2 separate regions of the Homo sapiens genome follow, and region 1 is linked to region 2. The links come from fine-mapping of genetic effects on gene expression. A gene starts in region 2. The other region holds a variant in brackets. All regions are shown on one strand. Distances are from middle to middle.

Region 1 (2,500 bases), 28 kb after region 2:
TGTGGCTTGGCCCTGAGGGACGTCCAAGGGAGTGAGGGGGTAAAGGTTGGTATCGGCGTCAGCCCCTCACAGGGAGGCTGGAGGTGGCACTCAGGAGCTTCCCTGGGCTTTGGGCTTCCGGTTTGAGGCTGGTGGGCTGGGGTTGTGTAAATCCCCCGATATCCTGCTTCAGTCTTGCCACTACCAGGAAGGCTTTCTGACTGGATTAAGTATATGTTATTTTCTGCATCTGAAGCCTTGCAGACTGGGAGGAACAGTGTCTCTCTGTCTCAGCATTAGCTAAGCCTTTTTTTTGTTTGTTTTTTGTTTTTTTTTTTTAGAGATGGGGTCTTGCTATGTTGCCCAGACTGGTCTCAAACTCCCGGCCTCAAGTGATCCTCCTGTCTCGGCCTCCCAAAGTGCTGGGATTACAGGCATGAGCCACCATGCCTGGCCGCCTTTTTTTTTTTTTGAGACAGGGTCTTCCTCTGTTGCTGGGGCTGGAATGCAGTGGTACAAGACAGCTCATTGCAGCCTTCACCTCACAGGCTCAAGCAATCCTCCCACCTCAGCCTCCTGAGTAGCTGGGACCAGAGGCAAGCATAACCATGCCCGAGTCATTTTAAATATTTGGTAGAGATGGGGTCTCACCATTGCCCAGGCTGGTCTTAAACTCTTGGCCTCAAGTGATCCTCCTGCCTTGGCCTCCCAAAGTGCTGGGATTACAGATGTGAGCCACTGTGCCCAGCTGAAGCTAATTCTCAAGAGACAGCAAACAACTCCTCAGTGCATTTTCTTTTTTTCCCTTTGTTGTTTTGAGACAGAGTCTTGCTCTGTCATCCAGGCTTGAGTGCAGTGGCGCAATCTCAGCTCACTTCCACCTCCTGGGTTCAAGTGATTCTCCTATCTCAGCCTCCCAAAACAGCTGGGATTATGGGCACGCACCACCATGCCCAGCTAATTTTTGTATTTTTAGTAGAGACGGGGTTTCATCATGTTGGCCAGGCTGGTTTAGAATTCCTGACCTCAAATGATCCACCTGCTCCAGCTTCCCAAAGTGTCAAGATTTACAGGCGTGAGCCACCATGCCTGGCCTTTTTTTTTTTTTTCTTTAATAGAGACAAGGTCTCATTATGTTCCCCTGGCTGGCCT[C/T]GAACTCCTGAGCTCACGTGATCCTCCCGCCTCTGTCTCCCGAAGTGCTAGGATTACAGGCGTGAGCCACCACACCCAGCCTGGCCTGCACATTTTAAGACATCCACTCCCGGCTGGCCCAGCGCGGTGGCTCACGCCTGTAATTCCAGCACTTTGGGAGGCCAATGTGGGCGGATCACGAGGTCAGGAGATCGAGACCATCCTGGCTAACATGGTGAAACCCCGTCTCCACTAAAAATACAAAAAGCCGAGCGTGGTGGCGGGCGCCTGTAGTCCCAGCTACTCAGGAGGCTCAGGCAGAAGAATGGCGTGAACCCAGGAGGCGGAGCTTGCAGTGAGCCGAGATCGCACCACTGCACTCCAGCCTGGGCGACAAAGTGAGACTCCATCTCAAAAAAAAAAAAAAACATCCCCTCCCACGCTTGACTTCCGCCCAGTCAGTCCTTCTGTCTAGACCCTGTCCTGATTCCCAACAGCAGCTCGCGTGTCTGGCACTCACCCGGGCGCCTCCTGAGGGCTGGTGGATCATGATACGGGAGTTGGGGAGCGAGTGGCGCATGCCTGGGGTGCCGGCGGCGAGAAGCAGGGAGCCCATGCTGGCGGCCTGGCCCACGCACCAGGTGCAGATCGGGTTGAGGATGTACTGCATCGTGTCGTAGATGGCCAGGCCCGCGGTCACCACACCACCTGTGGGCGGGGGAGCAAGTGAGGGGCTGGACCAGCTCCCCCCGACCCTTTCCCTATTCCATCTCCTAAACCTGGGGAGGGTGGAACAGATGCAGCCCCCCTCCTTTTTTAAAAATTAATATGACTGGGCGCTGTGGCTCATGCCTGCAATCCCAGCACTTTGGGAGGCTGAGGCAGGCGGATCACAAGGTCAGGAAATCAAGACCATCCTGGCTAACACAGTGAAACCCCGTCTCTACTAAATATACAAAAAATTAGCCGGGCGTGGTGGCGGGTGCCTGTAGTCCCAGCTATTCCGGAGGCTGAGGCAGCAGAATGGCGTGAACCCGGGAGGCGGAGGTTGCAGTGAGCCGAGATAGCGCCACCGCACTCCAGCCTGGGCGACAGAACGAGACTCCATCTCAAAAAAAAAAAAAAAAAATTAAGACTGGGTTTCACTGCTTTCACTATGTTGCCCAGGCTGATCTCGAACTCCTGGGCTCAAGCAATCCTCCCAAAGTGTTGGGATTACACGTGTGAGCCACCATGCCCAGCCAGAAGCAGCTATTTTTTTTTTTTTGAGACTGAGTCTCACTGTCACGTAGGCTGGAGTGCAGTAGCGCGATCTCAGCTCACTGCAACCTCCACCTCCCGGGTTTATGCAATTCTCCTGCCTCAGCCTCCCGAGTAGCTGGATTACAAG
Region 2 (3,012 bases):
GTTCTTTTTTTTTCCTTCTTTTCCTTCTTTTTTTTTTTTTTTTTTTTTTGAGACGGAGTTTCGCTCTTGTTGCCCAGACTGGAGGGCAATGGCGCGATCTCGGCTCACCACAACCTCTGCCTCCCAGGTTCAAGCGATTCTCCTGTCTCAGCCTCCCGAGTAGCTGGGATTACAGGCATGTGCTACCACGCCCGGCTAATCTTGTATTTTTAGTAGAGACGGGGTTTCTCCACGTTGGTCAGGCTGGTCTCGAACTCTCAACCTCAGGTGATCCGCCCGCCTCGGCCTCCCAAAGTGCTGGGATTACAGGCATGAGCCACCGTGCCCAGCCGTTTACTCGTTCTTGTCTCCCCCAAGCCAGACACTCCATGAGGGCAAGGACTATTTCTGCCTCCCTCATTCCTATATTCCTAGGGGTTGGCGGTTCCTGACATTTAGTGGTGGATGAGAAATAAATGAAAACAGACACATCGACGGTGTCTGTAGTTCATGGCCCAACTTTTGTGTCTTGCCCGCCTTCCCTTTGCTTAGCCAACTCCTATGCATCCCTCAGTGCCCAACTGAAACCTCCCCTCTTCTCTGAGCCCTCAGAGCCCCGCTGTGCTTCTCCTGCTCCTTCCTGGGTTGTAGATTCCCATGCTGTGACTCTGTCTCTTCCACGACACTGTAACCCTCGAGAGGACACTGTAATCCTCCGTGGGGAGCTGGTTTGACAGATTCACCTTGCGGGGCCCCGAACCCAGGAGGTGCTGGAGTATTTGCGAAGTGGAGCAATGAATGGTTGCGCCGTGAGCATGCGCAGTTGTGTTACTGCCATGATTCGGGGGATGTGTGCATGCCTGGAACGGGGTAGGGGATCCTGCATCTCCCTCCTGTTCTCGGCAGCTTCCTTCCCTTCCCCCCAGGAAGCCAGCCAGCCGCCCCCGCGACGTTACCCTTCTCCTGGGGCCTCAGAGCCCTGCCCATCTCGGGCAGCTTGGACTTGCAAAGACCCATCCGGCCAGCAGCTCTTGGGGTGGTCGCGCCCCGACCCCGCCCAGGCTCTGACCCCTCCTGGCTCGGCTCAACGTCACAAGGGTCCCCGCCCCGGTCATTTTGCGGGAATGACGGGGTCCACCCCTTCGGGGTAGGGGGAGGAAATGAACCCCAAACAGACCCATGGGGAGCCAAGCGGCGGTTCGACCCGACCCGAGTAGGCCTCGGTTGCTATGGTGACGCGGCCTTCTGGGCCCCCCAGGTCCAGAGCGGCAAGGCGCATGCGCAAAGTGCCTGGGAGCCCGCAAGGGGGATTCGTCTCCCTCTTCCCACCCAGGATGCCCCACGGTCCTTGGGTGCTGACGTCACGAGAGAGGGCGGTCCCCCATTTGATGAAGTTAACCGCGTTATATACAAGAGCGCCAGCGACAGAGGCCCGTTAGTTTATCTCAGACTCGGCCTAGGTTTGCTGAGTCTAAAAAGGGACCGCGGTGGACCTTTTGAGGTGACCATAGCCGCCGAGGAGCATAAGTGACTGCGCACTGAGGTGGCCACAGTCGCTAAGAAGGTTGCCATCGCGACGCGGCTGCTCGAGGGTTTCGCTTCCGGGTTAGGCGGCCGCAGAAGCGTAGACCGAGTAGCTTGAGCGCCTCTTCCGGTTACCTTTTCCCAGCGCCAGAGGCGCCTAGGGTTGGGGTCCTCGCTCAGGCACAGAGACCCGACACCGAGCGGCGGCTTCCCCGGGATCGAGGGACGCGCACGCCAGAGGAGACGAAAGGAACCCGGGTCGGACCAGATCGGAACCACTGACCATTGCCCATGGCGGCCCTAGTGAGTGTGGATTTGGCGGGGTTCGGGGGTTCCGACGGCGACCTCGGCGACCCCTCACTCACCGCTTCCTCTTTCCGCAGGGCCCTAGCAGCCAGAATGTCACTGAATACGTCGTTCGAGTTCCTAAGTAAGTCCCCAGCCCCATCTCCCACTCCTCTCCACCCCCCAAAAATGAAAACCTTCACGATCTTCTTAGCCAGCCATTTCTGGCCCTGTCTGTGGTTCTCCCTCCAGACCGGGAGAGACTTGGAGGGCAGGGCTGGGATTAAGCTGAGGCTTCTCTGGGGACAACACTGCTTTTTTGAACGAATGAATGAATGAGTGCATTAATACACGGTGATCCAGCCCCCTGGCCTAACCTTCGAGGAGTATATGGTCCCATGATGCCCAGGCCAGCTGTAAGGACATATTCCTCGTCCTGTTTCAAAGTGGTCAGGCTGTCTTTCCTTTCCAGGCCTTTGTACATCCTGTTCCTCTGCCATGAGTGCCTCCCCTCAACCCCTAAACTGTGACTCTGCTGGGTGAATTCTTGATGATTCTGCAAAACTCAACTCCAGTATCTTCCTCCTCCAGGAAATACTCCCTGCCTGTCCTCCCTCCTCCCCAAGGCTGAGTTCACAATAATCTCCACATCTTGGGTTCCCCCAAATCTTCGTCCCTCCATCTGCTCTTCTTCTGCCTGGGGTCAGGAGAGGATGGGTCTAGCTTCTCTGGCAGACTGGGAATCCTTGGAGTCTTCCGTATCCAGTGTTGCCAGGCAAAACAGGCTGAATGAAGCTGGGTGGGTTTGTTGAGTGAATTGAATTGAATTAATGATTCAATTGAATGGAATGATTGAATTGAATTAATGGTTCAATTGAATTGAGTGATTGAATTAAAGTAATGATTTGATTGAATTAACGATCCAGTTGGGTGGTTGATTGAATTAATGGTTCAATAGCATTGACTGATTAAATTAATGATTGAATTGCTGTATTGGATTGACACTACCTCTTCTCATCCACTCCAGGAATACAACCAAAAAATATAACATCATGGCTTTTAATGCAGCCGACAAAGTCAACTTTGCTACGTGGAATCAGGTAAGTCTCTGAGTCCTGGGGGTCAGGGGCTGGGGTGGTGAGAGAACTTGACCCTGACCTTGGTGGTTGTGATAGTTGCTTAACTGTCATAGTCACTAAGTCTTAATTTTCTCACTTTTCTCCA

Evidence for each region. PIP is the estimated chance that this variant, and not a neighbour inherited with it, causes the effect.
Region 1: its variant is fine-mapped to the expression of GTF2F1 in skeletal muscle (GTEx, PIP above 0.99).

What each region holds. Positions count from the first base shown.
Region 1 is chr19:6,363,770-6,366,269 of GRCh38, reverse strand. CLPP (caseinolytic mitochondrial matrix peptidase proteolytic subunit) reads right to left here. Exons shown (of 6, transcript NM_006012.4): 4 at 1,631-1,818; 5 at 1-12. Among named protein-coding and RNA genes, the nearest start is that of CLPP, 3.5 kb to the right of the region's middle. The variant C/T (reference allele first, on the strand shown) is at 1,132.
Region 2 is chr19:6,391,778-6,394,789 of GRCh38, reverse strand. GTF2F1 (general transcription factor IIF subunit 1) reads left to right here and starts at 1,626. Exons shown (of 13, transcript NM_002096.3): 1 at 1,626-1,806; 2 at 1,887-1,933; 3 at 2,816-2,888. The coding sequence starts at 1,795. It overlaps MIR6790 (microRNA 6790), which reads left to right and starts at 1,807; the gene lies at 1,807-1,869. It also overlaps the pseudogene LOC390877.